6 linked regions of the Homo sapiens genome follow. The protein of the gene in region 3 purifies or fractionates together with the protein of the main gene of each other region. This does not show direct contact. Each region holds a gene or a part of one and is shown on either strand. Other genes may lie near its edges.

Evidence for each region.
Region 1: the proteins of TCEAL4 (region 3) and SLC35F6 purify together in Homo sapiens (affinity purification with mass spectrometry; one large-scale study listed by BioGRID and IntAct). This does not show direct contact.
Region 2: the proteins of TCEAL4 (region 3) and IFRD1 purify together in Homo sapiens (affinity purification with mass spectrometry; one large-scale study listed by BioGRID and IntAct). This does not show direct contact.
Region 4: the proteins of TCEAL4 (region 3) and CAMSAP3 purify together in Homo sapiens (affinity purification with mass spectrometry; one large-scale study listed by BioGRID and IntAct). This does not show direct contact.
Region 5: the proteins of TCEAL4 (region 3) and SPTLC1 purify together in Homo sapiens (affinity purification with mass spectrometry; one large-scale study listed by BioGRID and IntAct). This does not show direct contact.
Region 6: the proteins of TCEAL4 (region 3) and ACTL8 purify together in Homo sapiens (affinity purification with mass spectrometry; one large-scale study listed by BioGRID and IntAct). This does not show direct contact.

Annotation. Positions count from the first base shown.
Region 1 is NC_000002.12:26,776,382-26,781,283, reverse strand, and holds the end of SLC35F6 (solute carrier family 35 member F6 precursor), read right to left. Parts: coding exon 4,802-4,902; intron 3,243-4,801; coding exon 2,773-3,242; 3' UTR 53-2,772; downstream 1-52. UniProt on the Homo sapiens protein: Involved in the maintenance of mitochondrial membrane potential in pancreatic ductal adenocarcinoma (PDAC) cells. Promotes pancreatic ductal adenocarcinoma (PDAC) cell growth. May play a role as a nucleotide-sugar transporter.
Region 2 is NC_000007.14:112,470,578-112,475,479, reverse strand, and holds part of IFRD1 (interferon-related developmental regulator 1), read right to left. Parts: intron 3,262-4,902; coding exon 3,133-3,261; intron 2,715-3,132; coding exon 2,619-2,714; intron 339-2,618; exon of another isoform or gene 245-338; intron 51-244; coding exon 1-50. UniProt on the Homo sapiens protein: Could play a role in regulating gene activity in the proliferative and/or differentiative pathways induced by NGF. May be an autocrine factor that attenuates or amplifies the initial ligand-induced signal.
Region 3 is NC_000023.11:103,583,406-103,588,667, forward strand, and holds TCEAL4 (transcription elongation factor A protein-like 4), read left to right. Parts: upstream 1-2,109; 5' UTR 2,110-2,219; coding exon of another isoform or gene 2,220-2,355; intron 2,356-2,453; exon of another isoform or gene 2,454-2,722; coding exon of another isoform or gene 2,723-2,896; intron 2,897-3,243; coding exon of another isoform or gene 3,244-3,270; coding exon 3,271-3,918; 3' UTR 3,919-4,324; downstream 4,325-5,262. UniProt on the Homo sapiens protein: May be involved in transcriptional regulation.
Region 4 is NC_000019.10:7,608,928-7,613,829, reverse strand, and holds part of CAMSAP3 (calmodulin-regulated spectrin-associated protein 3), read right to left. Parts: intron 3,355-4,902; coding exon 3,215-3,354; intron 3,131-3,214; coding exon 3,037-3,130; intron 2,954-3,036; coding exon 2,899-2,953; intron 2,736-2,898; coding exon 2,662-2,735; intron 2,314-2,661; coding exon 2,244-2,313; intron 2,144-2,243; coding exon 667-2,143; intron 1-666. UniProt on the Homo sapiens protein: Key microtubule-organizing protein that specifically binds the minus-end of non-centrosomal microtubules and regulates their dynamics and organization.
Region 5 is NC_000009.12:92,041,411-92,046,312, forward strand, and holds part of SPTLC1 (serine palmitoyltransferase 1), read right to left. Parts: intron 4,644-4,902; coding exon 4,589-4,643; intron 1-4,588. UniProt on the Homo sapiens protein: Component of the serine palmitoyltransferase multisubunit enzyme (SPT) that catalyzes the initial and rate-limiting step in sphingolipid biosynthesis by condensing L-serine and activated acyl-CoA (most commonly palmitoyl-CoA) to form long-chain bases.
Region 6 is NC_000001.11:17,820,590-17,825,106, reverse strand, and holds part of ACTL8 (actin-like protein 8), read right to left. Parts: intron 2,123-4,517; 5' UTR 2,099-2,122; coding exon 1,751-2,098; intron 1-1,750.

The sequences.
Region 1 (4,902 bases), on a different chromosome or scaffold from region 3:
CTCCCCAGAAGCAGAAGCTACTATGCTTCCTGTATAGCCTGCAGAACTGTGAGCCAATTAAACCTCTTTTCTTTATAAATTAAATTACCCAGTCTCAGGTATTTCTTTACAGCAATTCGAGAATGGATTAATACAATTGCCAATTTTCCTTTTCTTTTTTTAAAAAATAAAAGCCAAAATAACACTTTTAAGATCCCAGGTTTTAGACAAGGCAGCTGTAGTCTCTCCATCATCCTCACTGTCCATTTGCTTCTTCCTGGGACAGACACTGTGGCCCAGTGAAGCTGAGGGGACCCTGGGATTCAAAGCTGGTGGAATGGACCCTCCCTCCCCCCACAAGCTGTAATAACCTGCTGGAATCCCACACAACCTGAGGGCTTCACTTGTCAACAGCTCCCTTCCCTCAGAGGCTATTTTGAGGCAGGCATTCGGTGTTTTATGACTGAGCTACCCAGGAGAATGGTTTGAGGCCACACTCAACTGTTCCAAGGAGCAGCACTGGACCAAAGGCTGCTTGGTTCCCTGCGGTTCCTGATGCCACCCCTTCTCTTCAGGGTGGTTACCTAGAAGACAACAGTACATGAGGCTTCCAGCCCAGCCCTAGGAGATCCATCCCAAAGACCCCACAGAGACCTGCATGGGAGGTGGGGCCACAGGTCTGGTATCAGGCAAACCTAGGTTGGAACACTGGCTCCATAAAGAGGAAGTCACTTAACCTTCTCTGGGGCATGGTTTCTTCATCTGTTCCCACCTCTGAAGACTATCGTAAGACAGAATGAAAGTTAAGCAACTTAACGCAACGCCCAGGATACCAGAATTATTCTAAATGGCAGAATCCTACTTAGTCTGTCATCTTGGGAGTTCTCTAGGCAGGCAGGTTGCCAGGGGTGGGGCTGAGATCCAGATGTGCTCTAGGTCCCTGTCTGCTGCAGAATCATGTGGCTGCTGGACCTGGGGGTCCCCCAGGTCCTTGCAGGAGCTGAGGGTAGGAGACTCCATTTGCCAAACAACTTAGAACTTTGGGCCTCAGTTTCCTTGTCTTTAAAAGGAACAGGTAAAGAATTCATAAAAACAATTGACAAGGGCTGCCTGGAATTTCCCTGTAATCTCTTCCAGGCAGAGGAGGCCTCAGAGGTGAGAGTAAGAGCAGGAAAACAGGGACAGGTTTCACTCTGTTGCCCAGGTGTGGTGGCTCAGGTCTGTAATCCCAGCACTTTGGGAGGCTGAGATGGGAGGATCGCTTGAGGCCAGGAGTTTGAGATCAGCCTGGGCAACACAGTGAGACCCATCTCTGCCAAAAAAATAAAACAATAAACCAGGCATGGTGGTACATACCTGTTAGTCTTAGCTACTCGGGAGGCTGAGGCAGGAGGACTGATTGATCCCAGGAGTTCAAGGCTGCAGTAAGCTGTGCCTGGGTGACAGAGCAAGACCCTGTCTCTCAAGAAAAAAAAAAAAAAAAAAAAAAGGCTGGGCGTGGTGGCTCATGCCTGTAACCCCAGCACTTTGGGAGGCTGAGGCAGGTGGATCATGAGGTCAGGAGATTGAGACCATCCTGGCCAACATGGCAAAACCCCGTCTCTATTAAAGAATGCAAAAAATTAGCCGGATGTGGTGGCACACGCCTGTAGTCCCAGCTACTCAGGGGACTTGCTTGAACCTGGGAGCGGGAGGTTGCAGTGAGCCGAGATCACACCACTGCACTCCAGCGTGGCAACAGAGCAAGACTCTGTCTCAAAAAGAAGAAACAAACAAACAACAAAAAAAACAGCACAGAAGGGTGGTGCTGTGGGCAGAGGGGTATTTCCAGTGGATGGGCTGTTACTGTTTTCTCAGGTTGGTCAAGATCACAGGCCCATGGAATGCTGGGGCCAGAAGGCACTAAGGCCACAGCATCAACATCTACTTCCCAGAGCATAACACCAAGGCCCAGAGCAACTGGGTAATGTGCTGGGAGCTACAATGAGTTTGAGGCAGAGTCTGGGCTAAAACCCATGTCTCCAGACGGGTTTAGGGAGGATCTTAGAAGTTTTAGAAAACATAATGCTTAGTTATGGCTGGGTGTGGTGTCTCACGCCTGTAATCCCAGCACTTTGGGAGGCCGAGGCAGGCAGATCACCTGAGGTCAGGAGTTTGAGACCAGCCTGGCCAACATGGTGAAACCCCATCTCTATAAAAGTTACCCAGGTGTGTTATGCACCTGTAATCCCAGCTACTCGGGAGGCTGAGGCAGGAGAATCATTTGAACCTGGGAGGCAGAGGTTGTAGTGAGCCGCCGAGATCGTGCCACTGCACTCCAGCCTGGGCGACAGAGCGAGACTCTGTCTCAAAAAAAAAAAAAGAAAATATAATGCTTAGTTCTGGTTTAAATTTGCTCACTGACTTTTCTTCTTTGAAGAATCAAATCTAGCTTATGACTCATAAACTAGATAACTATGATAATCTAGTTTATGATTCAGATACACTACGGTGGTAAATTCCTACAATTCAACTTCATGATTTAGCTCTAGTGCTGTAGGAGGGGTCCAGAGAGCTGAGGTCTGCCACTGCACTCAGGCTTGTGGGGGCTGGGTAACACCACCCTGCAGGTGGTAGTGAGAAAAAGAGGACTTGGGTGTTGTTATCTTCTGTGGCAGCAGCTGCCCTGGGGGTTCTGCAGGGAGGGGACAGGGTGAGGCCTTGGGGATAGGGCATTCGGGGCCCACCAGCCTGTGTGGCCTCAGTCTCAGGGAGAAGGAGCACCCGGGTGGCAGTAGAAGCCTCCAGGGAACCTCAGCTGGCATCATTGATGGGAGTGCGGGTGCCACCCAGCAGTCTCTCCTGCTCGCTCTCCTCTGCCAGGGGCCGGCCCCTGGACAGGCGGCCCAGCAGCGGACGGTGTAGCCCATTGTAGAGGGCAGTGCCTATAAGGAGTATGAGGAAGCCAAGGATCTGCAGTGCATGGAAGGCCTCCCAGCCCAGTGCCAGGCTCAGTGCCCAGATGACAACGGTGCGCAAGCTGTCCAACACCATGCGGGTGGTGGCGCTCAGTTCCTTGGTGACGCTGATGCCTGCGAAGTTGAAGAAGGCAATGCTGCTGATGTTGCCCAGCAGTGCCACGGCAATGAGCGGCTGCTGGCCCACCTGGCAGAAGGCGTCCAATGCATCCTCCAGTGTCCCACGAGGGTTTCCGCTGAAGGAGCCGGCGGGGATGTAGTACATGGGCACCAGCAGCAGGGAGAGGATCACAAAGCCAAAGAGGCCTGGGGAGTAGAGGAAACAGTTACACTCTCCACCTTCCCCCAGACCCCCAGCACAGCCCACCGGCTTAGCCTCCTCTGATCTCGGGTCATTCCCTCCCAGTGGTCCTCATGCCAGCTCCCTCCTTTCACGTCCCTCAGTCTCTCATCAGGAGCTTGTGGCCTATTAGATGGGTTCTAGCTGTCCCTTCTCCACTTTTACTCAGGGTTTTTTTGACTGGATCAAGAGTAAGAAATACATTTTATATTGTGACCCAGTACACGTGTGCACAGGTTCATGGACACACACACACACACACACTCATAAAAACATTACCCTTACAGTATACAATGCTCTGATATTTAAAAATTCTATTCATTTAAAAAAAGAACTGCCAGCTGCAACTGACTACATTATTTTCACAAGTTTGGAAAAACACAGCTTTCTAGTTCAGTGTGTTACTGGTCTGTGACAAGGAGCTTGCGCCAGAAGGTAAGTCCATGCACTGCTTCACTCATTAAGGTCTTGCTAGAAAACAGAAATGAGTGGAAATAGACTGCATGCTCAGTGATATAGCTAATTCACATTCTGCCTAAGTCCCTTAGCTCACCGGGGGCCAGACAAGAGCTGCTCCCCAACAGGCACTAGCCCCCAGGACATTCTTTGAAAGCGCAGCTGTATCTTGCTAATCTCATAATTTTGATACTTACTTCCCTGCTCAAAAACTTTCAGTGATTCCTCCGTCATTTAAAGTCTAAATCTACTTGCCTGATGGTAAAGTTCTCTAATGACATGACCCTGACCTACTTAATTCCTGATTATTTCCCCAACATCAAACCTATACTGCACTCAAATTATTATTTTTTGAGATGGAGTCTCGTTCTGTTGCCCAGGCTGGAGTGCGGTGGCGCAATCTCGGCTTGCTGCAGCCTCTGCTCCCCCAGTTCAGGCGATTCTCCTGTCTCAGTCTCCTGAGTAGCTGGGACTACAGGCATGCGCCACCACGCCCAGCTAATTTTTGTATTTTTTGTAGAGACGGTTTTGCCATGTTGGGCAGGCTGGTTTCAAACTCCTGACCTCAAGTGATCCACCCGCTTTGGTCTCTCAAAAGTGCTGGGATTACAGGTATGAGCCACCGCACCTGGCCACACTCAAAATTATTCCTCACTGGTTTTCAAATTCACATCCAGTCCCCTGTGCCTTTGCTCTGTTTGGAGCTGCTCCTACTACTGCCTGTTGAAATTTGCAGCTCGAATGCCACCCTCCCTGCCCTGAGAGACTCAGATAGGCATGGCCAATGAGACATCAGTTGAGCACAAGTGGTCCAAACTTGAATTCACTGACTGCCCTTTCTTCCTGCTGGTCACCTCCTCTGAAGGGCTTGCATCTCATTCATCTCTGTCCTTGGTCTCCTCTAGTTCCTGACACAGCAGGTGTCAGAAGACTTGTCAAAACACATCTGGAAGGCAAGGCGGGGCAGGAAGTTCACCCCCCACAAGTGAACCCTGGCACCTTGTCCTGTGCTCAGCTCCCCAGGCTCCCTTCTACCCCACTCCTTCCAGGCCCCTGTGCCCACACACACCCTCAGTGCCAACTGCCCGCAGTGGGTGCACATTGTGTTTGTAGACGAACTTCTCCTCTAGCACCATCTGGATGGCAACGATGATCTGGGCCATGATGATC
Region 2 (4,902 bases), on a different chromosome or scaffold from region 3:
TTGCTTCTAGCTTTGGTTCGAGCTTTGAAGGCTGCAGAGTTATATAAATGCTAAAATGAAAAAAAGGAAAAACGTGCATCAGTAAGACTTAAGATATTCTTACAAAACAGAAAAAGGGTAAAAGTCACAAAGAAAAGAAATGAACTAATTTGACCCTATAAACATTTAAATGTTTATAAAACACACACAAAGAATGAAGGAGAAAAACAAAGAGTTAACAGGGGCCATGCAAGGTGGCTCACACCTGTAATCCCAGCACTCTGGGAGGCCGAGGTGGGCGAATCACGAGGTCAGGAGATTGAGACCATCCTGGCTAACACGGTGAAATCCCGTCTCTACTAAAAATACAAAAAATTAGCCAGGCATGGTGGCACATGCCTGTAGTCCCAGCTACTCGGGAGGCTGAGGCAGGAGAATCGTTTGAACCCGAGAGGCAGAGGTTGCAGTGAGCCGAGATCACGCCACTGCACTCCAGCCTGGGCAACAGAACGAGACTCCGTCTCAAAAAAAATAAATAAATAAAGAGTTAATGGCTATTCCATATTAAGAAAAGTACTAATCAAATTGTAAAACGCCAAGAAAGTTAGACGATTTCAAAAACCAACAGTGAAAAATGGACATCAACATTGTTTCATCCAAGAAAAGACAAATCATGACTAATGCAGAAAATAGTCCTACTTGGCTGTCAATTAGAACAAGGAAAAAAGTGATGAAGTGCCATTTTAATATCAATTAAATAAACACATTTTTTAAATTATAAAACTCAATGGTGTCAAATCTTTGTGTAACAGCTACATGCCTTCATTCATTGCTGGAGACAATTTAAATATCGTCTCCAATATAAGAGTAACTTTGGAAAGTAATTTGGCAATACATTATGCAGGGGATTTCTTCAAAAAAATTATTCAAAAGAGAGAAGTATGTAAAAATATTAATGTTTCTTAAAAAAAACTTAAAATGCCGTACAAGAAACAATTATGTGGATATAAAACTGATAAAATATCCAGGTTCTATAAAATGTAATTAAACACTTCACACCCACCAGAATGGCTATAATTAAAATAATTATTAGTGAGGATGTGGAGAAACTGGAACCTTTCTTTCTACATTGCTGATGAGAATGTAAACTGGTGCAGCAGCTATGGAAAAGAGTTTGGTGGTTTCTGAGAAAGTTAAATGTAAAACTATCATCTGACCCAGCACAATTCCACTCCTAGGTAATACCTCCCAAAATTGCAAAGAGCCTTTCAAAAAAAATTTTGTATGTGAATGTTCAGAGCAACACTATTCACAACGGCCAAAAGATGCAAACAGCCCAAATGTCCATCAACTGTTAAAATGGATAAACAAAATGTGATATATATCCATACAATGGAATATTATTCTGCCACAAAAAAGAATAAAGCTCTCTGAATTCATGCTACAACATGAATGAACCTCCAAAGCATTATGCTAAATGAAAAAAGCCAGACACAAAAGGTTGCATGCTATATAACTCCATTTGTATGAAATCTCCAGAAAAAGTAAATCCAGAGACAGCAGATTAGCGGTTGCCAGTGGCGGGGGGTAGCACAAGGGAAGTGACTGCTAATGAACAGAAGGTTTTCTTTTGAGGTGATAATGTTTTGGAACTAGAGTTGTACAACATCATGAATGTAATAAGTGCCACTGAACTGTATACTTTAAAATAGTCTGTTATATGAATTTCATCTCAGCACAAAAAAAAATACATAAATTAAGGATTTTTGAAATGCAGGCTGGTCATGGTGGCTCATGCCTGTAATCCCAGCACTTTGGGAGGCCAAAGTGGGTGGATCACCTGAGGTCAGGAGTTCGAGACTAGCCTGGCCAACATGGCAAAACCCTGTCTCTACTAAAAATACAAAAACTAGCCAGGTGTGGTAATGCACACCTGTAATCTCAGCTATTCAGGAGGCTGAGGCAGGATAATCACTTGAACCTGGGAGGCAGAGGTTGCAGTGAGCCGAGATTGCACCACTGCACTCCAGTCTGAGTGACAGAGCAAGATTCCATCTCAAAAAAAAAAAAAGAAATGTTAAGTAAAAATGATATTAATTACTATTTAACTCTCTTAAGTTTCCTCATTTGTAAAACGAGTCTGGTACTTCACTTAGCAGGCTATTATCTGATACAAAAGGACTATGTAAATACTTATTCTTAAACATAAAAACTCCAAAGAATAAAAAGAAACAAATAATGAACACCGTTCCTATATTAAGATAGAATTATACGTAAAATATATATGTACATATTAAATTTTAACGTGTTGTCAAAATATGTTTCATAAAATGAAAGAAATACACCTAATGGGCAAACAAGCAGCAATATTCTTTTCTCTGTTTTGCTTTTGAGACAAGGTCCCACTCGTGTCACCCAGGCTGACACATATATACACACACACACACACACACACACACACACACACACACGCCCCCCACACTCTAAATGCTTTCTGTATCTTTAGTACAGCTATTCTATGTGAAGCATCATGAAAAACTAAAACTCCACATATAGGTAGACACAGCTAAGTTGCTGACACTAGACAGAATCAAAGCTTTGGCGCACTTAGTTTTATTAAAAATAAAAACAAAACCTACCCTTTCGAAACGAGAAATCTTCATCGTTTTAAGCGTTGCAGCATCAAGCATCACTGGGGGTCCAAGTTCAAATACATTTCGAAGGAATTCATTTGACTTATGTGAAAGAAAAAGGTGGTATGGCTCAGTATTAAACATTATAGCTCTTTTTCACTAGACAGAGTGACTCTGATTAACAGAAGTTATGTGGAACCCACAGATAAACTTAGATCACTTATTTTCTGTTTCTCAATAGAAAGCAAATTGTTTTCAATGCCTTGAATCCAAGACAGCTATGTCAAGCTATTTGCTTTCATACAGACATCAGTAACCGTCCACCCAACTTTAACAATACAAAGAAAAAAAAAGGAACAGCTTCAGATTTATTCAAGTCTACTTTCAAAAACAAGTTTACTGTTTTCTAACATGTGGAAGCACTCTGGATACCTAATTAATTTCAAAAGCCAATTAAGTGAGCTATATTCAAGACTGCTCCCTACTTTAAAAGCAAATATGTAGAAAGGATGACACTTACCTGCAAGTGGTACTGCATCCCTGATCCAAGAACCTCCTTAAAGGTGTCATAGGTGTGTTTTTTTACCCAGCAATCAATATACATGCGTTCAGGACCAAATTTAATGGTTTCTGTTGGAAAATCCCGTTCCTAACCAATGGAAGAACCAAAATTACCACAGGCACTAAAATGGCTCAGAGGGATCTTATGTAAACACAATTTCTAAACAGTCATATACATGCTGAGATAAATGAACAATATGGCTTAAACTGATACTGCCATACCTGAGATGTGGACAAACTGTTGCTATCCTGTATGTAAGGGTGTAGAATTGGTCTAGTTTTGATAAACTTGAAGGCACAACTGAGTTTCAGTAACAATTAAGGCAAAAACCACATTGTTGAGAATACCTTTAAATTTCAACAGCTCTCAACAAACTTAAAAAAAGTCAGGTGTTTTTAATGGCCTAGGATGGGAGAGGGAAGAAAGTTGCAGAACAGTCAGGAAAACAAAATGGCACCACAAGCAGGGGGTGAAATGATGGGCAGTAGGGATCCAGGGAAGGAAGTGAGGGTAAATAGGGTTAACTGACCAAGCAAAAAGGAAAGGTCCAGCAACCAGAAGGGCTCCAAGAGGTCTCAGGCTAGGTTTCTAAGAAAATAAGAAGTAACACTAGAATCTAAGATTTTAGTGATGAAACAATTCTGTCAGAAGACCATTTCGAAGGTGTAACCATGGGAGTGCAGCCCAAATGACACAGAAACAGAAGTCAGATGGATTAAAAAAAAAGTCAGCTGGAATAGTGGCAGAACTTGTTAAGAAGAAAACTGGCTACTTAATTCTTTGGTAAATCATGAGTATGTCAGAGTAACCAGGAAGGGAGGAGCTGACTGCCACAGGGAGAGGAGAAAGGAGATGGAACTTGAATGACAAAACCACTCCACCTGCCTTCCAGACATCTACCTCAGCCCCTTCTCACTCAGCAGACAAAGTATATAATGTAATAGAAAAGACCGTCAACCCTAGACTTAATACAGACATGCAACTTGCGGGCTTGTGATTTCATCAAGTAACTTAACCTTGCTGAGTCTGTTCCCTTGCCCGTAAAATGGGGCCATCTTTACCTATACTGCATGAGGGTTATTAGAGGTGTAAAAGAGGACATGCATGTGAGGCAAACACAGTGACCGTCTGGTGCGTAACAGCAGCTCAAAAATAAATAAATAAATAACAGTAGAGTTATCTTATTTCAATCTTCTTTAATTCAGAAAACATTAAGGCACCAAGAAAGAACTGTTTCCCACCAACCCTCTATAAAGTCATCAGCATCCTTACCTATTATCCTCTTTCCTGTTGGTAACAGACAAACCTCTGTCCCTCCACAATTCAAGGTTAATCTCAATCTTTTACATATATAGTCAATCCTCCATATCTGGTTGGTTCTGCATCACGGATTCAACCAACCATGGACTGAAAATATTCAGAAAAAAATTGCAACTATACTGAACATGTATAGACTATTCTTTCTTTCCACTATTCCCTAAACAATAAAGTATAACAACTATTTACATAGCACTTACATTGTATTAGGTATTATAAGTAATCTACAGATGATTTAAAGTATACGTGCATAGGTTATATGCAAATACTATGCCATTTTATATCAGGGACTTGAATACTCAAATTTTGGTATCTGAGGGGGATCCTGGAACCAATGCCTCATGGATATTAAGAACAGACTACATTTTCAGATGCTCCTTTCTCCACAGGTTCCTTCTCCATAAATTGTCT
Region 3 (5,262 bases):
TGCACCCGTATGTTCATTGCAGCACTAATCACAATAGCAAAGATATGGAATCAACTGAAATGCCCATCAATGATAGACTAGATAAAGAAAATGTGGTACATATACACCATGGAATACTATGCAGCCATAAAAAGGAATGAGATCATGTCTTTTGCAGGCACATGGATGGAGCTAGAAGCCATTATTCTCAGCAAACTAATGCAGGAACAGAAAACCAAACACCATGTGTTCTCACTGGGAGCTGAATGATGAGAACACATGGACACATGTCAGGGAACAACACACACAGGGGCCTGCTGGGGGCAGGGAGGGAGAGCATAAGGAAGAATAGCTGGTGGCTGCCAGGCTTAATACCTGGGTGATGAGATGATCTATACAGCAAACCACCATGGCACATGTTTATCTACATAACAAACCTTCACATCCTGCACATGTGCCCCTGAGCTTAAAATAAAAGTTGAAGAAAGAAAATTATCATTGTGGGTAACTATTAGAAGTGAAATTACTGGCACAAAAGATCAAATATTAATTTTTTTTTTTGAGACGAAGTCTCACTCTGTCGCCCAGACTGGAGTGCAATGGCGTGATCTCGGCTCACTGCAACCTCTGCCTCTCGGGTTCAAGCAATTCTCCTGCCTCAGCCTACCGAGTAGCTGGGATTACAGGCGCCCACCACCACGCCCAGCTAGTTTTGGTATTTTTAGTAGAGATGGGGTTTCACCATCCTGGTCAGGCTGGTCTTGAACTCCTGACCTCAGGTGATCCACCCGCCTCAGCTTCCCAAAGCGCTGGGATTACAGGTGTGAGCCACCGTGCCTGGCCGATATTTTTATTTTTAAATAATTTACAAAGTTGATCTTCAGAAAAATTTCACCAACATATTCAATAAGAGCAGGGGAGAGTGCATGTGTCCCCAGTCCTTCAACAAATCTGTTAAAAATTTTCATGTAATCTAATCTATCAGCATTTGTCTCTTTGTTGTACAGTCACACTGCGTATCGATTGGTCAACGACAACGGACAGCATAGAATACGATAGGCTATAGTATGTAGCCTAGGAGTGTAGTAGGCTATACCATATAGATTTGTATAACTACACTCTACGATGTTCGCACCACCACGAAATTGCCTGATGCATTTCTCAGAACATATCCCCGTTATTAAGTGGCACGTGACTATAAAGGCCTTCCACACCAAAAGCTTATGTGGAGATAAACGGAGTCTACCCATAAGAGAACAAACAAGTGCTACTTATTCACAGCTTTTTTATAGCAAGGAAGTCAAGCCACCATCATTTGAGTCTGGCAGAGATTCAAAGACAGGCAGGGGAGTGGGAAAGCTTTATAGTGGAAAACAAAAACACAAAGACTTCAGCTACGCTCTGATTGGATGTTGTTGACGTGAGGAAGCTAGAGGCAGGCCAACTAGAGGCAAGCATCCTATGTGATTGAATATGGGTTCATATTTGGGTTTTTCTTGTTTGTCATCAGGTCAAAAAAATTAAAAAGGCCAGAAAGGCTAGCAAATTGATTAAAGTCCTGAACATTTCTGCAGATGCTATACTTTGGCTTTTTGAGCTGCTTGCAGCAAAGGTTGTGGGTCACAGTTCTATTTTCGTATGTGGTCTGGTCATTGTATATTCAGTTTCTCACTTAAGATAAATTAATCGTTGTTTTATTTTGCTTCAAATATAACTTTATTTTTTATTCATTTGAAAATTTATGTTTGTACATGTCAGGAAAAAGGGACAATTTCATTTATTTTGGAAAATTTTTCTTAAGTTTTTTCTAAAGGGCAATATTCTATTCTTTATACAGTACTTAAGTTCACATTCATACGATTTTATCGGGTGGGTCTACGTTATTTCAGTGGAATTTAAGAGCAACATTATCAAGACTCCTCTTCTGGACCGCCCAACTCATTAAAAAAAAAACTGTGATTTTCATTAAGATTCTTTCTTTGATTAATTTCTTAACAAGAAAAAAAGGACAAAAGGGCCCAGGGAGGTAAGAGGGTACCTGCTGGAGAGGTGGTGGGTGGCTGGAAGCGGCTGGCTAGGAGGCGGGGCGTGGGGCGGTGGAACTCCTGGGCTGCGGCATTCACGTGATCTGCACGGGCGCAGATGTAGGCACCGGTCCGAGTGCCTGCCCTCTGTCCCCGCGGCTGGGTCTCGTCTGCTCCGGTTCCTGGGCTCCTAATTCTTGGTCCAGCTTCTTCCAGGTCAGTGTGCGGGCCTTCCACGCTGCCAGCGGAACACTGGAATGGCGGAAGGGGAACGGGTACGGCAGGGGGAAAGGCTGGGGGTGGGGTCGGGTCGAGTCGAGGGAAGCTGGCCCGAGTGTGGACAGAGATGGCGGTGGGAAAACGGCTAGGGGTGGCTGAGGGGGAGCACGTAGGCAGTGGGCAGAGGGTGAGGAAGGCGAGCACCCCCAAGTATCCATGCTCGCTTTCCAGGCACATCCTCTTCTCTGCCCTCCGTCCATTTTGGAGCCGGAGATGGTGGGCTGGGGCCGCCCCAGTAGTGAGACAGTGGAAGTAAACCCCATCTGCCGTTCCCGTGCGTAGAGAAAAACGTTGACCGCGAGGCTGGGGAGGAGAGTTGCCTCTGAGGAAGAAGGGCACAGAGACCCAAAATTAGTTTGGAAAGCATCCTGATTTGGTGCCCGAGGCCTGGAAAGAAATGGCGGCTGGGGTGCGGCGGAGGTAGGGGAGGAAAACGTTGGATGAGAAGGGCCTGGACTCAGGAAAGGGAACCGCGTCCGTGTGAGCCCGCTGAGCGCGCAGACCCTGCCCCTGTCTCCTGTCTGTCTGCAGGTCTGCGCGTCTGTTGTTCCCAGCGCTCTGCGAAGCCTGAAAAGGAGGAGCAACCTGTCCAGAATCCCCGCAGGTCCGTGAAAGTACGGGGCTGCATGGACAGGGGCCCACAAGGGTTGAGAGTGTGGAGGGCCCGGCCAGGGCCGAATTGGGGCCTTTCCCATTCCCCCACCCACATGAACACACACCTTACCAGGCTGAACCAGTGCAGAGAAAGTGGCAGAGCCTGTCAGGCAATGGCTGGCTCACGTGTGTGGGAGGAGTGGCGGGCTACGTGGTGGGCAGAAGGCCCTCTTGGAGGCCTGGCCAGCTTAGGGGAACCCTCATCAGGGGTGAGATGCAAGTACTATCCAGACCTGCATTCCACCCCATGCACTCAGTCTCCCATGTCTCCTCTTTGTCTCCTCTTTCCTCCACCCCCATCCCCCAGGACAGGAAAAGGAGGGGAAATCTCGACATGGAAAAACTCTACAGTGAAAATGAAGGAATGGCTTCAAACCAAGGAAAGATGGAAAATGAAGAACAGCCACAAGACGAGAGAAAGCCAGAAGTAACTTGTACTCTGGAAGACAAGAAGTTAGAAAACGAGGGAAAGACAGAAAACAAGGGCAAAACAGGAGATGAGGAAATGTTAAAGGATAAAGGAAAGCCAGAGAGTGAGGGAGAGGCAAAAGAAGGAAAGTCAGAGAGGGAGGGAGAGTCAGAGATGGAGGGAGGATCAGAGAGAGAGGGAAAACCAGAGATAGAGGGAAAGCCAGAGAGTGAAGGAGAGCCAGGGAGTGAAACAAGGGCTGCAGGAAAGCGCCCAGCTGAGGATGATGTACCCAGGAAAGCCAAAAGAAAAACTAATAAGGGGCTGGCTCATTACCTCAAGGAGTATAAAGAGGCCATACATGATATGAATTTCAGCAATGAGGACATGATAAGAGAATTTGACAATATGGCTAAGGTGCAGGATGAGAAGAGAAAAAGCAAACAGAAATTGGGGGCGTTTTTGTGGATGCAAAGAAATTTACAGGACCCCTTCTACCCTAGAGGTCCAAGGGAATTCAGGGGTGGCTGCAGGGCCCCACGAAGGGACATTGAAGACATTCCTTATGTGTAGTGTCCCTGGCAGGCATTTACCAGGCCATGTGCTTTAACGTTACGGTAATACTTTACTTTAGGCATCCCTCCTGTTGCTAGCAGCCTTTTGACCTATCTGCAATGCAGTGTTCTCAGTAGGAAATGTTCATCTGTTACATGGAAAAAATGTTGATGGTGCATTGTAAAATTAAAAAACACAACTTGCAGAACCAAATATATGGCATCAGTACATTTTTGTAAAACTACAAAGATACTTACCTAGTAATATAGTATAGAAAACAATTCTGAAAGCTGTGTCCACTAAAAGATTAACAGTGGTTATCTCTGGGTGATTTTTTCTGTTCTTTTTTGTTCATCTGTCCATTTTTCTCCTAAAAACAGATTTCTTTAGTCATAAAAATAATAAAATATAAAGTATTGGAAAACAGTGAATATTTGAATTTCATTCATTTGAATAAGCATTCAAATGAACTGCCCAGTGAACTTATAAAGACAGTGGATATACTTAAAATTCTTGTGAGGACATAAAATGATAGGTAAAAGTTGCATTACCTCTGGGACTGGAAGCTGGAGGAGTCAACTCGATGGTTATTACAGAGCCATTGCTGTAAGGGACAGCCTTGACATCTGTGAAATGGGGATAAAATTAGCCTAGACATGTGGAGAAGATCAAATGAGGTATTGAGTGTGTGAGCTGTGTTAGGCTGGCTCCTACTCTCTCCCCTTGCACTAGCAGAACCAGTGCCCAGTCAGATACTTGGGAAGGGCTGAAGGAGGGTCTCACCTGTGCCCAGAAATAAGTCCAGACAGCTGAGAGATGGGTGCCACTCTTCCTGGGTAATGCCATACTTGAAAGGTAGTGTGCCCCTTCTCATGGATCCTGCACCCTCCTAAGGCCCCAGCTGCTGCTGGTGGGCTGAAGACCATGATGGACTAAGCAACACTGTCCCAACAGAAAAGTGGAGAATTCCCTCTCTACCTACAATAGAATTATCCTAACTCAGGTTGTTAGTACCCAATTGTCACTTGGGCCTTGATGTTTTATGAAGTTTTTACAAAACACTGCTTTCCATGTTTTTTGTTGATTTGTGTATATTTTTGCATATAGCCGTTTCCACCGGATTTAGATAGTGGAGATTGAGCCAGGAGGAAAAGCTGAGTGACGAGATGGTGTGCTATTCTCATTTGTTAATCTCTAGTCTGCTAACACTTTTTTCTTAGGAATTGTCTCCCAGGAAATTTCTGTTAAGCCCTGCTTTACTATTTCAACAGACCCATCTACCTATGTGATTTTTTCCCCCTGGCTCTTGAGTAGCTTTTTATTTCCTTACAGTATTTTTTTTTAATAAACTTTTAGGATGGT
Region 4 (4,902 bases), on a different chromosome or scaffold from region 3:
GGAGAGACAGTGGACACAGGGCAGGGCCAGGAAAGGGGTGGTAGGAGCGTGCTGGGGGCGAGGGGGTGAAGGAGAGGATGAGCAAGGAGGTGCGCTGAAGATCCTGGTCCTGTCCGTCTATCTGTCCATCACCCACCCACCCATGCAACCAGCCATTCATCCATCTGTCTATCCATGACTCCTCCCTGTTTCTCCACCCCTCCCCACATCTATCTATCCCCCTTGTCCGGCCACCCATACCTTGTTTGGGAGGGACATGACTGGGTCAGCCCCCACTGGAAACCCCTCACCCCCAAACATACCCGAGGGCCTCACTCATTAAGCCACAGGGGGAGGACCTCTCACCCCACTGCACCCCCACAGCCCCTTGTGGAAGTCCTTACCCAACAGACAGGGTCAAATCCCATCTGAGGCCCCTGTCACCCCACATACCTGCCCCCCACCGTGCAAATGTCCCTTTCCCCCCTCTCCCACCCATGGAGGCCTTACCCAGCCACTCACACCTGTTCTGTCCATTCATACCTGGCTCCCCATCTATCCCCCACCCGCCCACCCATCCTTCAGTAAAGCCCTATTCATCCAATAGTGGGTTTGTCCACCTCCCCCCGCCCCCACCCGCCCCCGCCCCAGGCCCAGGACCCTCCAGCCACCTGCTCGGGGACTCACCTTGTAGAAGAACCCCAGCCCCACCCGGGGCTCCCCCTCCGAAGACGCCTCCTCCTCCAAGGAATCCTCAGCACCAGCGGGGCTCCCGTCTCCCTCGTCCTCGGCGGCGGGATCTGCCAGGCTGCCCAGCGGGATCTCGATGAGGCCCGGCCGGGCGGCTGGCTCCTCGGGGGGCGTCTCCTCCGCCAGGAGGATGGAAGAGCGCGTCTGCACGGGCACCTGGCTCGGCGAGAACTTGCGCAGGTGGGGGAGGCTGTCTACGTCGTGGGGTGGCGTAAGCACCCTGGTCAAGGGTGCCAGCCGCAGCTCCGCTGGCCGCGTGTGTTTCGGGCTGCGGGGTGACTGGCTGGGCCCGGGCCCAGGGCTGCGCCGGGTGGCCGGGACTCGCCGGGCGGGGCTGGGGGATGCAGCTTTGGGCCCCGTCGTGGGGCCAGGGATGACCCACGCAGCAGGTGGTGGGGCGGATCCGGGGGCCTCGGGCGGGGCCAGGAGCCGCTGCTGCTGGTCCGTGAGCCTCTGCATGTCCCGCTGCAGCGAGCTCAAGGCGGCACTCAGCTTGCTGACCGCTCGATTGTATTCCCCCAGCCCCTCGTGGGGCACCGGGCCCAGGTCTGGCGAGAAGGTCACTGCCTTGGGCCGTGAGGTTGGCTCACCCTGGCCCTCGCCTGCGGGCCGCTCCCCACCAGGGACTGGACCGGAATCGGCCTCCTCCGCCTCTGCTTCCGCCTCCCCAGAGGCTTCCCGCGGCTGCACCTGCAGGAAGGCGCTTTTGCCCAGCCGCTGGCGGTGCTTGGCGAATATGGCCTCAATCCGTCGCTTCTGAGCCTCGATGGCTCTGCGTTTCTCCTCCAGCCGGGCGCTGAGCTCACTCATCTCCGAGCTCAGGGCCTCCGGCGGGGCCGGAGTGGACGTGGGGGACCCCGCTCCGGCCTCAGCCTCTGCCTTCACCAGCTGTTTCTTGCGTTCTGCAAAGCTGGTCATTTTCACCTCGGAGTTGGTGGCTGCTGGGGACGAAGCCACCGCCTTCGGGGACCCCTCGGATGGGGCTGGCGGTTTCGATGCCTCCCCCACCAGACAGGGAGATGGTTTCGAGGGGGTCTCGGGGTGTGGCATGTACACTGGTGCTTTGGTGGGCCTGTCGGACAGTGGTTTGGAGGTCCCCTCGGGCAGGTAGGGGGAGGCCAGGGATGGCTTGGAGGGCCCCTCAGGGGAGTGGAGGTAGAAGCTGCCGTCGGCCGCCCCATCTGGGAGGAGCCGGGGCTCGGCACTGTGGATGATCTGCAGAGCTTCCTCGATGGTGGGCAGGTCACCAGGCTCCGGGGGTGGCTGGGTGGGGGTCCTGGCCGGCGCGGGACGCGGGGGGCCCAGGCTGTCCGAGCTCACAGAGCGGAGGAGCACAGGGTCTCCCATGACGACATCCACGTCGCTGTCCAGGCCAAAGGGGGTGCTGAATGACACAGCCTGGGAGAGGGGACGGCTGGGCGGCCGGAGGGAGGGGTCAGCCCCTGGGACCAGCCTCGGCCCCAACCCGCCCTAGCCTGCTCCACCCCCTACCCTGGCCTGTGAGGTCTACTCACCTGAGCTGCCGGTTCCAGGCCTTGCCCAGGGCCTCCATATGGGACATGGACGGGGAAGACTTCAGGGAGCCTGGGGGAGGCGATGAGTGGTCACTATGGGGACCCTGGGAACCCTGAGTGGGGTCAGCCAGCATCTGGGGACAACCTCTGCAAGGTCATTGGGTGAGTCACTGATGGCTCATTATGTGGTCTAGTGAGACCAGAGGTTTCCAGAAACAGATACCCGGGGCCATTTACTGTCACTACGGGGTACTGTGGGGCCACTGGGGAGGCCATTCTGGGGGTCACTTTGGGATGCCCAAGGGGGATCTGATGGAGAGGCTATTGGAAGGCTCACGAGGAGACAACATGAGGCCCACTGGGGCAGTCTGTGAGTGGGGGGGTCCCCCGTGACAGAAGCCACCTACCCCCTCCTCACCTGTGGATCCTCGGAGTGGGGACTGGGGGCCACCAGATGACAGAAGCGGGTGGCGGAAGGTGAAGACAGGAGAACTGTACGGAGAGACGTACTTCAGCCTCAGGACCCCCACCTCCTCCTCCGCCTCTCCCCGGGGGGAGACAACAGCATCACCCAGCTGCGTCCCAGTGCTCAGCAAGGCAGACATGGAGCCCCACACCCACAATGCCAGAGACTCGCCCAGTGTGGGGAGCGTACCTACTGCCGCTGTTGTTCTGAGGTGGGGAGGCCTCAGTGCCCCGGGGGGAGGCAGCTGCAGTACAGAGAAGAGGGTCAGGCGGGGGTTTGGCTCTCCCACCCGCCCCCGACCCGGCCCCCAGGCCCCCAGGGCCTCACCGTGACCATCGGGCAAGTCCTTCACTTGCACAAAGTCGGGCTTGAGCACCTCAAAACACATGAACAACTCGGCCAGCATCACCACCAAGTTGACCTGGAGGTGGGAGGCCGGGTCAGCAGACGGGACCCCTGGCCCCAGATGCCCGCCTCGGCCCAGGAGGCCCCAGGATGGCCTTACCTTGAGTGGCGGTGGGACGTACAGCAAGTCCTCAAGGGACAGGGGGCAGCCACGAGGAAGGCGAGAGGCACAGAAATCCTGCACGAGCTGGAGGTTGTACAGGCTGTCCGCCACAGACATGGGGTCCTTCAAGCACACCTCTGTGGGGACAGGAGGAGTGGGTCCCCAACTCTATGAGGAGGAGGATGGGGCCCCAGGGAAGCCAGGGACCAGCAGTCCCCCACACACGGAAGACCTCCTATGAGCCCAGCTTCTGCCAGGTGCCCTTCGAGAGGTGAATTCTTTTTTTTTTTTTTTTGAGATGGAGTCTCGCTCTGTCACCCAGGCTGTAGTGCAGTGGCGCAATCCCAGCTCACTGCAACCTCTGCCTCCCGGGTTCAAGTGATTCTCCCACCTCAGCCTCCTGAGTAGCTGGGATTACAGGAGTGTGCCACAACACCAGGCTAATTTTTTGTGGTTTTAGTAGAGATGGGGTTTCACCGTGTTAGCCAGGATGGTCTCGATCTCCTGACTTCATGATCCGGCCGCCTCAGCCACCCAAAGTGCTGGGATTACAGGCGTGAGCCACTGTACCCGGCCGAGGTGAATTATATGATAGACCGTCCTTAGGCCGGGGGTCCTTAACCCCCGGGGCGTGGCCTGTCAGGAACTGAACCGTACAGCAGGTGAGCTGCAGTGAGTGTATTTACAGCCGCTCCCCGTCACTTGCAGGACCACCCGAACCCCGCTTCCGTCAGATCAGCGGCGGCATTCGATTCTTACAGGAGCGCGAACCCTATTGTGAACCTGGCGTGTGAGGGATCTAGGTTGCACCCTCCTTATGAAAATCGAATGCCTGATGATCTGTCACTGTCTCTCATCACCCCCAGCTGGGACCGTCTAGTTGCAGGAACAAGCTCAGGGCTCCCACTGGTTCCCCATGATGATGAGTTGTAGAATTATTTCATTCTATGTTACAACGTATTAGATATAAAGTACATAATAAAGATTAACGTGCTTGAATTATCCCAAGACCACCTCCCTGCCTCCATCTGTGGAAAAATTGTCTTCCACAAAACCGGTCCCTGGAGCCAAAAAGTTGGTGACTATTGCCTTAGGCCTTTGCATCTTTCTAGAACACTCTCCCCCAAGACCTCAGCTCAAAAAGCTTTTCCGGGCCAGGTGTGGTGGCTCACACCTGTAATCTTAGCACTTGGGGAGGCTGAGGTGGGAGGATGTTTGAGCCCAGGGATTCAAGACCAGCTTGGGCAACATAGCAAGACCCCATCTCTATTTTATACTTTTTTTTTTTTTTTTTTGAGATGGAGTCTCGCTCTGTTGCCCAGGCTAGAGTGCAATGGCATGGTCTTGACTCACTGCAACCTCCACTTCCTGGGTTCAAGCGATTCTCCTGCCTCAGCCTCCTGTGTAGCTGGGATTACAGGCGCCCGCCACCGCACCCGGCTAATTTCTGTATTTTTAGTAGAGACGGTTTCACCATCCTGGCCAGGCTGGTCTTGAACTCGTGACCTCGTGATCCACCCGCCTCGGCCTCCCAAACTGCTGGGATTACAGGCGTGAGCCACCACACCCAGCCCTATAATTTTTTTTTTAATAAAAAAGAAAAAAGAGTTTTTTTAAAAAAAGCTTTTTCTGACCACCCATTGCCTTTAGGACTACCCAGTATGCAAAAAGTACTTCTGGGCCGG
Region 5 (4,902 bases), on a different chromosome or scaffold from region 3:
ACTATGATGAAAACACACAAAACCAAATTTACATAAATAAAAAGTTAAAATAATATAGATATATGAGAGATAATCAACAACTATTCCCAAACCAAAGGCCCCAAGCCTAGATGGCTGTAAAGTGGGAGACCTACTCTCAACTTCTGAAGAAACGATCAAGCCTTGTTTTACTCAGTGCTTCCATGAAGCAGAAAGAGTGGAAAATAGCCAAATCATCTACCGAAGCTACCCTAACACTGACTCCTATGTTACGTAAAGTTGGTACAAGGTTATAGATCCATTTAAATTATAAACAGATATAAAAAGTCAAATTAAAATATTAGCTAAATAAATCTAACAGTGTAGAAAAAGATATTATAATGAAGTAACGGTTTTCTCAAGAATGCAAGGATGGTTTAACATCAGAAAATATTTCAATGTAATTCAGCCATAAGACAAATTTATGATTTACCTTAATAGATGTAAAAAAAATGGATAAAGTTCAACGTCTATTTATGATTTTAAAAAAAGGCCTTCAAATTTAGGAATCATTTAGCCAGGTGCAGAGGTACATGCCTGTAGTCCCAACTAGTTGGAAGGTGAAGGCAGGAGGATTGGTTGAGTCCAGGAGTTTGAGGCTATAGTGTGTTGACTATATCTGTGAATAGCCACTGCACTCCAGCCTGGGCAACATAGCACAATCCTGTCTCTTAAAAAAACCACAAAACAAAACAAAACTAGGAATAATTCAATAAAAGCTACTCACCAAAAACCCATAGCATGATGTTTTATACTTAATGAAGAAGTGCTTCTATACTGGGAATAAGGAAGGAATGTTTGCTATTATTGCCACTGTTCAATACAAATTAGGGACTCAGACCAAAGCAATAAAATAAGAAAATGAACTAAGACGCAAAAGCATTAGGAAGGAAAGAGAGAACACCATTATTGCAGATAACAGGACTTCCATGCACATCATCATAACACAATGAAACAATTACTGGAAATACTAAGAGTTTAGAAAGACTCCTGGATATAAGGTCAGTTTAGAGAAAATAATAATATTCTTATGAATCAGCAATAATCAAGTAGAAAATATAACAGAAAAGACAACCCCATTCATAACAGCAACAAAATCTATAGGATGTCTGAAAATTCCCTTTAAAGGTTCCATAAAGGTACAAGGGCTTTATAGGAATTCCATTAAAGGACACAAAGGGAGATTTAAATAGAGAGCTCATGTTCATGGATGACATTTCCCTCCACATTCATCAGAAAATTTAATGCAGTTCCAATTAAGATTCTAGCAATAATTTTGGAGAAACCCATATTCCAAAACAGTGATAAAAACAGACACTAGTGATAAACCTGTATTCCAAAACAGTGATAAAAACAGACAAAATCAAAAGAGTCTGAGGAATGAGCAAATATACCAATGGAATGGAAGAGACAGTTTAAAAACAGATCTAGGTACAAATGGGAACCTGGTATATGATACAGTACTGTCAACCAGTAGGAGAAAGGATGTTTTATACTTAGCCAGATGTTATTCAGAAATTGATCTCAGTAATCTTAAACTGAAATATTCTTCTCTTGACCAATTTCTTTCTCCAGCCACCATCTTGTTTCTTAGTCCCTCTTCAGAGAAAAACTCCTCAAAACAGTCATCTAGGCCGTGTCCACCTGTCTGGAACCTCCTTCAAGCAGGCATTTTACCCCACACTCCCCTGAAACTACTCACCAAGTCATAATACCTCTACATAACGAAGTCAAAGGATCAGTGTTCTGTTATCTGGTCTGGCCTGTCAGCAGCGGCATGTCACAGGCTGACCTCCTACATAAGCAATTTCTTCCCTGGTTTCCAGGACTCTAGGCTCTTCCAGCCTGCCTCTTCCTCACTGGCCACTCTTTCTCAGACTAGTCTTTGCTAGTTTCTGACCTCTTCACACTGAAATGCTTCATATAATATCCATACCCCAAGACTCAAACATTTATCTCTAGCTCAGTACTCTCCCTCACACTTCAGACTTGTATATCCAGCTGCTGCTCTGCACTCCATGTCTGATGGGCACTTTGGGCTTAACATAACCACTGCTGACCTTCCCCAGAAGGTATTTCTCCACAGTTCTGTCCCTCTCACTCATTAGCAACTCTACCTATTTACTCTGACCAAACCCCCTGAGCTCTACCTGGAGTCTTCTCTTTCTCACTCACCCTGCATATGAACTTCTGCTAGATCCAGTGTGCTCTCCCTTCAGAAGATACCCAGAATCCAGACACTTCGCAGGTCATGGCTCCCAACATGGTCAGAGTCACTATCACCTTTCACCTGCGTCAATCTCCTAACTGGTCTCCCTGCTTCTGTTCTTACTGCTGTTCAATGTATTTTTTCACACCATGCAAAAGTAATTTTGCTAGGGTATCAGATAGGCTGTTTCACTTTTTTGCTCAAAACCATGCCAGGGCTTCCTCTGTGTGCCAATGTCCTCATCACGGCTCACAAGTCCCTGTGTGCGGATGGCCCATGACCCAGCCCTCATCTTCCACCAGATTTCCCACTCCTTTCCTCCTGTCACATTGGCCTCTTTGCTATTTTGTTTACTGTTCTCTGTAACCATCTAGATACCAGCACGGTTTGCCCCTGCGACCCTTATGAATGTGTGTTTACTGTGAGGTGCCATGGAGTCTTCCAACTGTGGATACTGAGTAGGCAACTGGGTGTGAGACCTGCAGCTGCAGTGGTCCAGGGTGGTGATACGAAGCTGGGAGCTGTCTCTATACAGGTGTCATGAAACGATGTGGAGCTCCAGGTGTGGGAGAAGGCAATTCTTCAAGAAGGTAATGAGAAGAAAAGAGAAGCACAGACAAAGCCTTGAAGAGCAAGGTGTTGAAAGAAAGCCTTCAGAGGAGACCGAGATGGAGCCATTCAAAGATGTAAAAGGAAATCCAGGCGTGCAGTGTAGCAGAGTCCAAAGAAGGAAAGAGTGGTCACCTGTGCTGAAAACTATGGGGACATCAAGAAGATGAGCTCTGAAGATGGTCCACTGGATTCAGCAGTCAGTGGAGACCTCCACAAAAACAGTCCAGGCGAAGGGCAGTAGCAGAAGCCAGGTCTCAGAGCTGCCAGTGTAAGTGAAGACGTGGAGATGATAGCTACTGAGAGGAGCAAAGACATGGGGAGTTGCAGAGGGAAACGTCAGGTGACAGGCAAGAGGAATTTAAAGTGGACATGACTGCTAATCAAATAACACAAGAAAGGGGACAGGCTGATGACAAAGTAGCAGGGACAAGCAAAGGCACTCAGTCCTTAAAAAAAGGGCCTGTGGTAGTTGGAGCAACATTTACTGGTCTACAGGAGGGAAGACTGGTTCAGATACCCACAGGTGTGTAGATTTGTCAGGAAATATGACAGAGTCCCAAGTGACAGCATAAGGCCAGGCTGTTAGCTAAAAGTGAGGGGAGTGAAGACAGAGGATTAGGAATTTTGGAAAGAAAAAGTGTGATACAGCTGGGGTAAGTGGAGATTAGACTTAGAAAAAGGCAGGTTAACACCATAGAGTGAAAGGCATGTAAGGCTAGCACTGATGCATTTCCAGTGACTCCAATATGCTAGGCTGTGTTGGCATATTAATATTTCACAAACCAATGGAACTGGAACCAATACAAATATATCTCTCTACCATAAATCATGCAAGAACTGCTGTTACTATCACACAGACACACCCAGAACTTTAATGTCTCTGCCCCTTCTTTATCTGGAACAGCTGTGATGTACTCATTTATCAATTGTCCTTTTCTTTCAGTTAAGTCTCCAGTTTCCATATCCGGAACACAGATAGGACTTTCATGACCAAGAAAGCATGTTTAACCTTAGGAAAGGCAAAAAGAAAGACCTCGGGCAATGTGAAATCACTTTATATAAGACCAGAAATGTGCCTGGAGATATCACCAACCTCCATTTTTTTTTTTTTTTAACTACAGAGGAATCTTAAAGAGTGACTCTTCTAGATGACAAGTTAGTGGGTGCAGCACACCAGCATGGCACATGTATACATATGTAACTAACCTCACAATGTGCATATGTACCCTAAAACTTAAAGTATAATAAAAAAAAAAAAAGTGACTCTTGTGTAGTAAAAAAAAAAAAAAAAAAAAAAAAAAAACACTGATAAAATTTCACTTGTTTCTTTTTCTTGTGTTAAAACTTAGTAATTTATTAAAAAGTAACACAGATGGTATGAACCCAGTCATCTAATTACATAATATATAATGGCATCCCTGTGTGTGCAGACATGGAGAGATGCTTCAGTGTTTACCCTGGTTATTTCTGGTGGTAAGATGTTGGGTTGTTATTTTCATCTTTCTATCTTCTGTACTGCTGTAATATTTTATTAATGAGTTTGTTTCATTTTCAGAAAAACAAAGTCACGATTCTTTAAAACAGATGATCTGGTTTTACACAAATAAACCAATGTGAGTGAACTAAGTTTTTGGTTTCTTAGCTGCAATCTGGTCAAACTGACCCAAGCCTAGAAATTTAAAACTTTCCATTAGTTGTTAAGTGTGGTGCAGATAAACTTTATGTTGGTTGAAAATATATAAAACTCACCCTTGTAAAGCTTTATGAATTTGTCCGCACTTTTCCTTCAACACTGCAAAAATACCTAGATGAAAAAAATACGTTTGAGAGTCTATTTGAAACTTATGATAGTACTAACCTAAAAATATTTTTGAAGACCCAGATCAAGTTCATCAATTTAAAATGCTACAAATCCTTCTACATACTAACAGAGCCAAGAACCCATACTCCCCTGAAGGCCCAAGCTTTGTCTCTGGTGCGTGCTAACTGGCCCCTTCTCACCTCAGTATCCCACTTTCAACAAACCTGGAATGATGCTTTCAAGAACAATCAATGCCTCTTGT
Region 6 (4,517 bases), on a different chromosome or scaffold from region 3:
CCCCCTGAATCTTTACAAAGCCCCCCTGCCCCCCATTCCTCAGCTCTGGCAGCCTCCCCAAGGTTCTAATCCCATAGAAGCAGAAAGATCCTAACAGTCAACCCTTCTGTGGTCCCAGCCACTTACTCACCTCTTCAAGCCCCCACAAGCCCATCGTCTCCCCTCAGTGGGAGGGGGCTCCCTCCATTACTACTCTCAGAAAATTGTCCCCCCACCAGCCATTTCTCAAAATAGCAGCCAAGGTCCTCTTTTTCAAATAGAAAATCAGATACAACTCCCCCATTTAAAACTCTCCATTTAAAACTCCCCAGGAACTTCCTATTCACTTAGAGCAGTGGCTGGCAAGCATTTTCTGTAAAGGGATAGACAGTAAGGGTTGCCAAATTCAGCAAATAAAACTACAGGATGCCCAGTTACATGTGAATGTCAGATCAATAATAAATAATATTGTAGTGTAAGTATGCCCCATGCAATATGAAACATACTTAAATACTAAGACATTATTTGTAATTTATCTGAAACTCAAGTCTAACTAGGCATCACGTATTTTACCTAGTAAACCTACAATAGTAAATATTTTAGCCTTTAACTTGATGTATGGTCTCAAACAGTCTCTGCTGCAACAACTTAACTCAGATGCTGTCGTATGAAAGCACACTCTGCCAAACCCTAAATATCAGAATTCCTGTTTTGTCTTCATGTTTGGAAAGTTTTTATTTAAAAAATAATAATAGGGCTTTACCTACCAGGCAATGAGCATATGTTCTTTTTTCTTTCCTCTCTCTTTCTATCTTACATAACATATAAATGAATGTGTGTGGCTATGTTCCAATAAAACTTTATTTACAAAATAGGTGGTGGGCCGGATTTGGCTCACTGGGTTGCCAATCCTTGATTTAAAGTAGAATCCAAGCACTCCCCACAGCCTACCAGGCCTACAAGGCCCAGCCTCCTCCAACCTCACCATCCTATTTGCCTCTTGCCGCTCTTGCTGCTGAAATCACCTCCGTCAGAGAAGCCCTTCCTGAGCGCTCTCTTCAAACAGGTTCCCCACCCCCAACAGTCCACCATGATCCCATTTCATTATGGTTCTAGAACTCATCACTACCTGGAATTATTTCTTAACCCCTTCATGGAAGCTCTCTGAGGGCCAGAACATGGCCTGTATCAGCAATTATGGAATCCATAAGCAAATATTCCACGTCTCCCTGGTAACCCCCTTTCCACCAAGCACGTTGGTTGCTGCATGTCCGTCTGCAGGTGGGGCCTCCGTGAGCTCCCCTGCTTAGTGGCACACCAGGCATTCACTAGGTTCTTGGGAAATGTTTGTGGGGCAATTTGTTGGTTTCTGTTGGGTTTTTTTGTTTGTTTGTTTTTTTGAGACAGGGCCTTGCTCTGTTGCCCAGGCTAGAGTGCAGTGTCGTGATCTCAGCTCACTCTATTCTCGACCTCCCGGGCTCAACTGATCCTCCCACCTCAGCCTCCCAGGTAGCTGGGACCACACCTGGCTAATTTTTGTATTTTTTATAGAGACAGGGGTCTCACTATATTGCCCAGGCTGGTCCTGAACTCCTGGGCTCAAGCAATCTGCCTGCCTGGGAGTCCCAAAGTGTTGGGATTACAGGCATAAGCCACCACACCTGGTTGGCAATTTATCTTAAAAAGCAGAATTCCTGGTGCCCAATCAGTCCAGACATAGTGTCAGTCTGTTTCCCGCTCCCGAGTGGGAGCAGGCCCCGGCAGGCCTCACCTCCAGCATCTTCTTTCGGTCCGCAGGCTCCCTCAAGGGTGTCTCCGTGATGATCACAGGGGGGACCTCTTGCTCCCGTCTGTGGTTCTCCAACACAAATGACCAGAGGTACTGCACACCCTCCCAGTTGAGGATGCGGCCCCGCTCGATGGGGTAGCTAAAGGTGTCAGGATGGCAAATGTCGATGCCCAGGCTCACACGCCTACGGGCATAGCTGGGGCCAGGGTTCTCCTTGCACGGTAGGTAGTTCACGATGTTCGGGAAGACCATCTGAGGCTCATTCCAGCCGGCCGTGCCAGCCTTCAAAAAGCCAGACCCGTGGTCAATGATAACGGTTCTTGCAGCCATGGCGGAGGCAGAGGTGGGTGGGACCTGCGGAAGCAAAGGATGGGGTTAGTTGTGCAGGCAGCCTAGGCCACCATAAGCAGCTTCCCCCTCTACCCAACAGTCAAACCTCAGGCTCCCCCTGAAGCTTGTCCACTGCCCCTTCCAAGCCTTTACACAAGCCATTACCTGTGCCTGGAACACTCCCCCCATCCCAAATTCCCAACCATCCTACCAGGCTCCCTTAATGGGCCACATCCAGGAAGTGGCCCCCACCCCTCCTGCCCACTCAGCTTCTCCCACTGCACTTTGCACACACATGTATCCTGCTAGGTGAGCACTTCTGCCCCACAATCCAACTCTGCAAAGGGTTGGATTACTCTTGGCAGACTCAGCAAGAAGCTTGCCACTTGGGAAGTCCTTGTAGACACTGGCTGCCTGATTAGAGGGCACAAGGAACATGAAACATCAGCCTCAGAGCCACCACCTTCAGTAATAACAATGTCATAGCAACAGCAGCAGAAGCAGGCATTGTATTAGTGAGCATGGCAGCAGCTACAGGGACCATTTTCTGGAGAACCTACTCTTTCTCCAGTACTACAAGGAATGCTTTGCATGTTAGGTTGGACTAGGTAAAACTGTCATTTGTGTCTGTGAAAATGGTCAGAGATCAGCAATTTCACATGGTTTCACTTGATACATGGACTCATTTAATATTTGCCACGATGTATAAGGCAGGTGACGTCCACTTTACAGATGAAGAAACTGAGGCACAGGGGGTAAGATTACTTTCCTAGGGGTATACAACTAACAAAAACAGAGCTAAGAGTCAAACCCAACCCAGACTGCAAAGGCGATGTCCTGAGCATCAAGCATGCGAGGCACCAGGCATTAGGTGTTAAACATGAGCTAAGCATCTAACACCTGATGATAAGGGAGACTATCAGGAAGACTCCATGATTGTGGTTAGTTTCTTCATCTGTAAAGTGGGGAGAACAGCAGCCCCCCTGCTGAAAAGGTAGGTATGGTCACTACCTGATGTTCAGACTTACTCAAAAGCTACAGTAGCCAAGACAATGTGGGAGGTACTGGTAAAAGAATAGTCAAGGCCAGGCACGGTGGTTCACGCATGTAATCTCAGCACTTTGGGAGGCCAAGGCGGCCAGATCACCTGAGGTCAGGAGTTCAAGACCAGCCTGGCCAACATGATGAAACCCCATCTCTACTAGAAGTACAAAAATTAGCTGGTGTGGTAGTGCGCCTGTAATCCCAGCTACTTGGGAGGCTGAGACACAAGAATCGCTTGAAACCGGGAGGCGGATGTTGCAGTGAGCCAAGATTGTGCCACTGCACTCCAGACTAGGCGACAGAGTGAGACTCCATCTCAAAAAGAAAAAAAAGGGAATAGTCACAAACATAGATCCATGGAACAGAAAGTCCAGAAATAGGCCCACACACAAAAAAAGTGTCATTTGCTCTTTGACAAGGTCGAAAAATAATTAAATGGAGAAAGGACAGTCTTTACAACAAATAGCAAAGAACAATTGGATGTCCATATACCAAAAAAAGAACCTTAGCCCATACCTCACACCTTACAAAAAATTAACTTAAAATGGATCACAGAAATAAATGTAAAACCTGAAACCATAAGACTTCTAAAAGAACACCTAGGAGAAACCACGAAGGCAAAGTTTCCTTAGAACATTAGAAGTCTGACCCACAAAAGAACAAATTGATAAACTGGATTTCATCACATTTAGGAACTTTTGTCCTTCCAAAGACGCTATTTACTACAAAGAGAATGAAAAGACAAGCCATAGACTGGGAGAAAATACTTACAAATCATATATTTAATACAGAACTCTCAAAACCCAGTAATAGGAGAAACAAGCCAATTTTTTTTTTTAATGGGCAAAAGCTTTGAAGAATCACTTCACCAAAGAAGATAGATGGATGGCACATAAACACATGAAAAGGTATTCAGCATTATTACTCATTAGGAAAATGCCAGTTAAAATCACAAGATATTTCTGTACACCTACCTATTAGAATGACCGAAATTAAGGCCCACCCTTACCAAGTGCTGACAAGGAAGTGGAGAAATTGGAAATCCCATGCACAGCTGGTGGGAATGGCAAATGACACCAGCACTTTGGAAAATGGTGTGGCAGTTTCTTAAAAAGTTCAGCATACTTTGGGAGGCCAAGACGGGCAGATCACCTGAGGTCAGGAGTTCAAGACCAGCCCGACCAACATGGAGAAACCCTGTCTCTACTAAAAATACAAAAACAAAAAAAATTAGCTGGGCGTGGTGACACATACCTGTAATCCCAGCTACTGGGGGGGCTGAGGGAGGAGATTCCCTTGAACCCAGGAGGTGGAGGTTGCGGTGAGCCAAGATCGCACCATTGTACTCCAGCCTGGGTGACAAGAGCAAAACTCC